Linked DNA regions of Homo sapiens: regions 2 and 3 are each linked to region 1. Evidence: fine-mapped expression QTL. A gene starts in region 1. Each other region holds a variant in brackets. All regions are shown on one strand. Distances are from middle to middle.

Evidence for each region. PIP is the estimated chance that this variant, and not a neighbour inherited with it, causes the effect.
Region 2: its variant is fine-mapped to the expression of ITIH4 in prostate (GTEx, PIP above 0.99).
Region 3: its variant is fine-mapped to the expression of ITIH4 in amygdala (GTEx, PIP 0.96).

Annotation. Positions count from the first base shown.
Region 1 is chr3:52,829,158-52,831,915 of GRCh38, forward strand. It overlaps ITIH4 (inter-alpha-trypsin inhibitor heavy chain 4), which reads right to left and starts at 1,515. Exons shown (of 24, transcript NM_002218.5): 1 at 1,396-1,515; 2 at 1-122. The coding sequence starts at 1,485.
Region 2 is chr3:52,500,796-52,503,553 of GRCh38, forward strand. STAB1 (stabilin 1) reads left to right here. Exons shown (of 69, transcript NM_015136.3): 2 at 371-507; 3 at 843-958; 4 at 1,211-1,296; 5 at 1,364-1,433; 6 at 1,837-1,932; 7 at 2,204-2,314; 8 at 2,549-2,745. Among named protein-coding and RNA genes, the nearest start is that of STAB1, 6.8 kb to the left of the region's middle. The variant A/C (reference allele first, on the strand shown) is at 1,497.
Region 3 is chr3:53,794,260-53,797,017 of GRCh38, forward strand. All of the region lies in intron 40 of CACNA1D (calcium voltage-gated channel subunit alpha1 D), which reads left to right. Among named protein-coding and RNA genes, the nearest start is that of CHDH, 51 kb to the right of the region's middle. The variant T/C (reference allele first, on the strand shown) is at 1,622.

The DNA.
Region 1 (2,758 bases):
ATCTGGAAGGTGGCCTCCTGCACAGTATTGGCCCTATTGACCACTCGGCTGGTGACGACCGTGTGGGCAAATCGGGATGAGACCCTGGAGTCCACGGTGAGGCTGTAGATGTCGATGCCATTCTGGACCAGCAAAGAAGAAGGGGGTTGCAGGGTTTCAATGCCACCTCAGCTCGGGGTGACGCTCTTCAAGAGTTGGCCCTGACTCTGGCTCTAGACCAAACCCTGGCTCCCAATCTGACTGAGCCACTGACCAGGCCTCAGGCTGAACCCAGTGAGGCATCTCATATGTGAACATTTGTCTCAGGTAAGAGATAGCAGTGTGCTTCATTCCCCACCCTACAGCACCACAGGGCAGGGGCCACGTCCTTCTTGATCTATAGGGGCCCAGAGCACCCCTTGGAGAAGAACAAGCATGCAGGGGGTGGAGCTGGTGAAGCCAGGGCCAGTGTCTGGGAGGGGCATCACACTCAGCCTTTGGGCAGGGGTGAGAGACCTGGTGGGGTCAGGGAGCTTTGCATGCTGGCTTAGCTTTGCCCAGAAAAAGGGCAGTGACCAGGTCCTTTGATTTCTGGAGACTTTGGCCTCTGTGGCAACAGGGAAGCTCCCACCAGTCTCCTAGAAGGAAGCCCTCAGAGCTGGGAGAATTCGGAGGTAGACTAGAGTCTGGTCTCTGAGAGTTGGGAATCTTCCTCTCTGCTCCGCAGTGGACCCTCCCCAACTCATCCCCACTTCCGCAGGGCACTCCCCTAGCAGGTGCCATTTGCCTTGAGGTCTGTGTCCCCCGAGGAGGGGCACACGGGCACCTCTTACCTGCTTGTGTGTGACATGCTCATGCGCACTGCACCAACTCTGCTCGGCTGCATGCGGCTGCCTGAATGCAGTTTGGCACAGAGGTGCCAAGTGGCTTGTTTATGTGCTTGGGTATTTGCTCTGCGACAAGCACTGTCCTAAGCACTTCATAGATACAATGGGTTTGGTTTTCACAACAAGCACTGTCCTAAGCACTTTATAGATACAATGGGTTTGGTTTTCACAACCGCCACCCTCTGAATAGGTTCTAGTATTACCCTGTTTTACAGATGAGGAAATTGAGACATAGTCAGCATAAATCATTCTCCTGAGGTCACTTACTAAAAGGCGGTAGAGCCAGGCTTGTAAAACTGTATTTCCTCATTTGGAAAATGGAAATGATTGGATCATCCCCTCTATTAGGTGGGAGAATACCAGTAAGGCCCTTGGGGTAGTGCCTGGCGGGAGGTCTGCACCATTTTTTTGCACACACAGGGATGCACACGCACTTGTGCTGACACGCTGGCACATGCGGAGGCTCTTCCCCACTTCCCAGGCGTTCTCTCATCCCCCAGCTCACGCCACACCCATGGACACTGGCTACCTTTTCGGCAGTAGTAGTCTGGTGGATGGCCAGCAGTGAAAGCAGGACGAGAACTTTGCTGCAGGTACGGACAGGCCTTGGGGGCTTCATCGTGGCTCCAGTGTCTGCCAGGAGGCTTCTGAACTCGACAGCAAGTGGGGAATGGATTAGTAACTTGTTTGCTGCCCCACCCACATGGGGGCAGGTTCTGGGAAATTGGGATCTACAAGCCAAAAACCACAGTGACCTCAGATAAGCAAATGACGAACGTCCCATGGACCTTGGCTGGGGGCAGGAATGTATACCAAAGAAAGGTAGGCTCAGTTTGGAGTGGGGGTACATGCCCCTTCTGAAAAGTGCGAAACCTTCACCAGGACCCTTCACACCAGGCATTCCACCAAGCTCCACAGGGCTGGGAGGGAATTGACAGTGAAGATGTCAGTCTGCTCTCCCTAAGTCCAGCCCGGGGAGAAACAGCGGGGGATGGTGGGGAAGACTAGGGCTACAGGGCTACCCTAGCGGCTTCCCGGAAGAAGGGGGCTTGGCCACCAGGTAAGTGTGTCTGGCTGATGGGAGGGCCCAAAGGCATGGAGTGACTCTGGGAGGTGTCTGTGTGGGGCAGATCTAGAGTCAGGATAGATACGCCGTATTTCTGAAGTGAGAGGTGCTGGGCACGGGGCGCCTCCTTCTCTCTCCTGGGGTCCCAGGTTGCTGTTTGGGTGCCATTAATCTAGCCAGGGCTTTAGGTTCAACCCCAGCAAGGCCCCCAAAACAAGAATGGCAATACAACTGAGTCATAAACCTGCCACATCCTGTGGCACAGAGGTCTCCATGCGGGGAGTTTATTGACAGAAGAGCATGGAACAGAAGACAGACCTGACAGTGCCAGCAGCTCCTGAGGGGTGACTGGGGAGTCATTTGGTGGAGCAGAGGGAGCCCAGGAATCGCTGGTTGAGAGAGGGCAGAATGCTGTTGTCATGAGCAGTGTGATGCTGCCACAGCCCAGACCCAGGGGAGCGCTGCCCAAAGGCCTGGGGTGGGTCCCGGCCTTGCTAAAGTTGAAGCGCTCTGCTCCTTGTAAAGTGGGATCGAGTGAGTACATATTATGCGCTCTGGGCACCGCTGGGGCTCGTGTTCCCTGGTGGCTCTGGGGAAGCCAGCTCCTGAGTCTGTGGCCACAGATGGGTAAAGATGAGTCATAAAAGTGTGGCCAGATGCCAAGTCCTGGATCAGGGAAGGACGGCGGCTCCGTGACACCAGCCCTGAGGGGGCCAGCTGCCTTGGGAACCTATCGGGGGCCTTGGGGCAGCCAGTGGCTTCCAGAGGCTGGGGAGGGTTTCTCCACCAGTCCTGTCTCCATTAGAGGTGGCGGCAGGCCTGGGGC
Region 2 (2,758 bases), 330 kb before region 1:
CCTGGGCTTCAGTTTTCTCACCTGAAATGGGCTTGGGGGAGCAACGTGGCTAGATTCTCTAGTGTCAGAGGGTGTGGACTCAGAGCCTTCTGGGCCGGGCACATAAGGACTCGATGTGACATTAACAACTTGTAACAGACAGGTTTCACAGGGCCTTCCCCATCTGCACTGCATTCCCACTGAGCGCCCCCAGGGCATTCTGTGGACCCCCAAAGAACTCAGCTCTGTGCCCAGAACCCTCTGCTTACTCTGACCCCTGAGCAGATGGGAAGTGGCAGCTGGAGGGGTGTGAGCCCTTGCAGCACTGAGGACAGGGTCAGGACTGGGCGTGGGGTCCAGGCCCCTGACCACACCCTGCCTGTGGCCCCAGGTGCTGTTCAAAGGCTGTGATGTGAAAACCACGTTTGTCACTCATGTACCCTGCACCTCGTGCGCGGCCATCAAGAAGCAGACGTGTCCCTCAGGCTGGCTGCGGGAGCTCCCGGATCAGATAACCCAGGACTGCCGGTGCGGGCCACCCCTGTCCTTGCCTGTGTCCAGGAGCATCCTGTGGGGTGGCAGGGACTCGGGGAGCCTGACAGGCCCACAAAATGAGGAGAAGCACTCACTTATCCATGCCCCTGTGGCCCCACCTGGGTGGTGGAGATAGGCGGGGAGGAAGGGGTAAAGGCGAGGGGCAGGAGGGGTTTATGGGGCACCTGCTATGTGCTAGGCCCTGTGCTCAGCTCTGGGCCAGGCAGAGCAGGGAGGTGGGTGGGAGCCCCGGAAGCCAATGTGGGGAGGCTGGGTGGGGGCTGTGCAAGGGAGCCTTTTCCATCACCCTGCCCACCCTCTGCCCCCAGCTACGAAGTACAGCTGGGGGGCTCTATGGTGTCCATGAGCGGCTGCAGACGGAAGTGCCGGAAGCAAGTGGTGCAGAAGGCCTGCTGCCCTGGCTACTGGGGTTCCCGGTGCCATGGTATGGGAGAAAGGGGGACCCCGCCTTGCGCCTCCCACCCAGCCCCAGCTCTGGGCAAGCCCTCTGCAGGAGCCACCTGCATTCCCCTTCAACTTGTTTGTTTAATTAATACTCACCGAGCGCCTCCAAGGCTCGGCCCCCTTGCTCTTGCTTCCTTGGGGGAGGGGCCGAGTCTGGGGTTGGCCAGAGCTGCTGGGGTCAGGGTAAGCGGAGGGTTCTGGGCACAGAGCTGAGTACTGTGGGGGTCCACAGAATGCCCTGGGGGCGCTGAGACCCCATGCAATGGCCACGGGACCTGCTTGGATGGCATGGACAGGAATGGGACCTGTGTGTGCCAGGTAAGGGCTGGGCAAGGTGGGGTGGAGGCTCAGAGGGGCCACGCTGACTTGGTGCATCCACCACCAGGAAAACTTCCGCGGCTCAGCCTGCCAGGAGTGCCAAGACCCCAACCGGTTCGGGCCTGACTGCCAATCGGGTGAGTGCTTAAAAGGCAAGAGGGCACGGCCAGCGTCCACCTGGGGGCCCACGCAGATGCAGT[A/C]CCTACAACCAGCTCCCACCTGTCCCTTCAGCCTCTGTCCCAGCCCCTCAGATTTGCACATCCCTTTCAGGAACATGTGCTTTGTTTTATCACACCTCCAGCCCTTTGCACATGCTACTCCCCTGAGAGGCCTTCTCCAGGAAGCCCTCTGTGAGCCCCAGGCCGGGCCAGTGCCTTCTGTGGTCTCCCACCACCCCTGTGGTCCCGCATCACAGCTCTGTACTCTTAAGGTTGTACCTGCCCGAGCTGAGTTCTAAAAATACAGAGAGCAGGGACCCGATGTCCCAGTGTGTGCCTGGGAGAGGCTGGGGCCCCATCTGTCTCTGTGTGTCCCTCCCAGTGTGCAGCTGTGTGCACGGAGTGTGCAACCATGGGCCACGTGGGGATGGAAGCTGCCTGTGCTTTGCTGGATACACTGGCCCCCACTGTGATCAAGGTGAGCAGCGCCACTGGGATAGCCTAGGGCAGCAGGTCCCTGTGGCCAGAGCAAAAGAGGCCGACTGGGTGAGGATGGGGCCTGAGCCTCAGCAGGACCTCCGCCTGGAGCCTAGTTGGGGAAGGGGTGTCATCTGAGACCTCCACTGTCCAGAGGCCCAGCAAGGTCAGGGCCCTGCTCCAAGTCACACAGAACAGGCAAGGCCCCTTTGCCCCTGTGTTCCTCCCCAGCCTGGGCTTGGGCTCATCAGTGCTCTCTCCACTCTGCGCAGAGCTGCCCGTCTGCCAGGAGCTGCGCTGTCCCCAGAACACCCAGTGCTCCGCAGAGGCTCCCAGCTGCAGGTGCCTGCCCGGCTACACACAGCAGGGCAGTGAATGCCGAGGTGAGCCTGGACTCAGAGGCCAGGGACTTCAGCTCAGGGCGGGCGGGGGCTGGGAGAGCATCCTTTAACCCAGCAAGTGCAATGTAATTCACAAGGAGGGAGAGCCATTCCTAAGGGGAGCCTATCCTCAAGGCCTAGGTCAACCTGCTGGCCCCGGCCTTCCTGGTGAAAGCTGTGGCGGAGACAGGGCTCCTGGGTGCTTGGCTCACTTGGGCTCTCTCTCTGCCCTGGCAGCCCCCAACCCCTGCTGGCCATCACCCTGCTCACTGCTGGCCCAGTGCTCGGTGAGCCCCAAGGGGCAGGCTCAGTGTCACTGCCCTGAGAACTACCATGGCGATGGGATGGTGTGTCTGCCCAAGGACCCATGCACTGACAACCTTGGTGGCTGCCCCAGCAACTCTACTTTGTGTGTGTACCAGAAGCCGGGCCAGGTGAGCCAGGGTC
Region 3 (2,758 bases), 970 kb after region 1:
TGTGTCATGATTAGATGATCTGTGCGAAGGAGCTGGCTAAGACTTACTAACAGTTCTAGGGTGGGTAGAAACCCAGGTGAGTTCATTCTCCTTGGCACCTCTTAGACCTAAGGGACACAGCTGTTTGAGATCTTGGAAGGGCACATAATTCTAAGGCATGGTGAAGGCAACCCATTCAGACGTCCCAAAGGCTGGCTCAGGGAAGCCATAGGAAGGCCATTTCTTCCAAGAGTGGAGAAAGGTCCACAGAAGAGTGGGAATCCTAGATGGGGTAAAAAAGTCTACACCTGAGGAAAAAGTAGTAGTGCCTGTTGGAGGATAGATTGATCAGCAGTTATCAAACTTTTTGGTCTTCGGACCCTTTTATACTCTACATTATTGAAGACCCTTGTGTGTCAATATTTACTGTCTTAGAAATTAAAACGGAGCAGTTTTTAAAACAAGAACATGCAAGCACAAAGACGCCAGGGTGATGACATCATGCATCAGGCAGCCTTTGAAAACCTCACTGTGCTCTCATGAGAGGATGAGAGTGTTGAAGGCAAAGAACATCCTTATGTTATGCAAATCACAGTGACCTCATGGACCCCTGACAGTGTCTTGGGATGCCCCAAGGTCCCCAGAACACACCTGAGAACTGCTTTGGGGGAATGCTACTAGGTCCCCCTAAAGGCAGAGGGTGCTGGAGCCTTTTAATCATCTCCCTTGTTAAAGAGGCTCCTGTGCAGTGGCACTGCCCTAACTGGAGCCCTTCTCCCCCTCCAGCCCCTTCCCAGTCTCAGCCCACTCCCCGGAGGCATGGAGCTGCCTGTGTCCCCATTCGTCTAGCATGGCCGAGTCTTGCGGCCTGTGCTGATCTGCAGGTGTGATGGTCTGAATCAGGGCAGGATAGAAAGTGTTTTTAAAAATCAGCTCCCCTAAGTGCACAACTGGGACCAAGGATGTGTGCCAAACAGGATCCGTTTCAGGGATAACTTTTGATCATTTGTCATCTCCATGCTGACTTAGGAATATAAGAGCTCTGCTAGGGTAGTCAAAAGAGGGTTAGCCTTGATCAGGTGGCACCCCACAGTCGTGACTATAGGTGAGTAAGTGTGTGATTCAGACTCCAATCCAGCGTTCTTTCCCAGTAGGTGCAGTGACTTTGCCTGGGTGGTGGTTGAGGTGGGGAGTTTGGGAGAGGTAAGGCAGCCCAGTGTCACAGGAAGAACAGGCTTAGGGGCCAAGAGTCCTCACTGAGCCTTTGACTCATTTGGGCACATAATTTAACCACATGGGAATAACTTTGGCTCTCCCTTCCTCCCAGAATCTAGTGGAATATTTGTATGTAAGCTCACAATGACTGGTATAAAGATGCTATCAGAACAGAAGTTGTGTTTTACAGCTTCTGCTAAGCCTAAACTTTACAGAATGCTCTATTATCAGGAAACTGGCAAGACTTTTTTTGATTCGGTTGTTAAAATTACAACGAATCAGATTCCTGATTGCACCAAGAATCAAGGTGGAACTGAAACGGAGAGCTCTCAGATTGTGTGCAGGCAAAGGTCATATTTTAGATAATTTCTTTAAAGTTTCCTTTATCTTTCCAAGTGATGGGAATAGCGCAACCCCTAGGGGAGCT[T/C]GTGGGGGTCATGTTACCCCTGACTTTTCAGTGAGGGTTGGAATCACTGTGGATGACTAACAGAGCGCCAGGATCCCAACCCTTTATATCTGACACAAGGACCATTCACAATGGACACAAAGGCTGCCATCACATTATCCCTGGAGGAGAGTGGTGACAAAATAAGGGGTGTGCCCACGTGTGATGTGCTGAGGAGGCGGACGGCAGCTTGCAGATGAGCAGGTTTATTCCATAAGAACTTAATCTCATTCTGTTTTCTAATGGAACTAGTCTAAAAAGGTCCCCTCTCATTGGGTATAGACTGAATCCTGCTAAAGGGTTAACCAGAACTTGTCACCAGCGAGACGACTGTGTGCAGGGCCAGCCTAGGCTGAGTGCAGCCTGCCTGTGATGGGGAACAGGCTCTGCCAGGCAGGGTTCTTTGGCTGGAGTCTCAAAGCCTGGCGCTTGTATCCTGAAGATGAATGGCCTGGCCCAGTCCCGACTAGAGACATGCATCTCTTATCTCCACTGCTACAGCGTAGGTCCAGGGCGGGGCTCTGGGCACTTGTGCATGCTTGCTGTGGCGCTGTGAGGGCTGGCAGATGGCTGGTGTGTCTGATGGAGCTAGCTTAGGGACACAGGCAGCAAAAGCATTGCAAATGCATCTAGGCAGGAGAAACTTAACCCTAAAAGTGGGCAGGAGAAAGAAAGGTAAATGGGTGTTCATATTTGATGTCAAAATGTCATCATATTATGCTATTCAGAAGTGTTTTGAGACATTTTAGTTTTTTTTGGTAACTTAATCATTCAATAGAATATCTATGAAATTCCAACTAAATGGTGTCTAAAATTTTAAGCAGCAGTCTACAGGCAAAGCGCCAACATTTCTTTTCTAAAAATTATTTATGATAACATCTAGCATTTTAAAATCAACCAGAAACTAGGCTTGATTCTGTTTAATATTTTATAAGATTGGACATCTTAAAATAAGTCAATAATGTTTATATTTTATAGCAACTCTGTGTTTCTTCAAAACCATATTTCTGCTGTGATGTTAATGGAATGACTTTATATGGCTTTAATTGTGTTGGTTTAAGTGCTAATGACCACTTTTCAAATTAAAATAGTATTTTGCTGATAGAGGTAGACACAGAT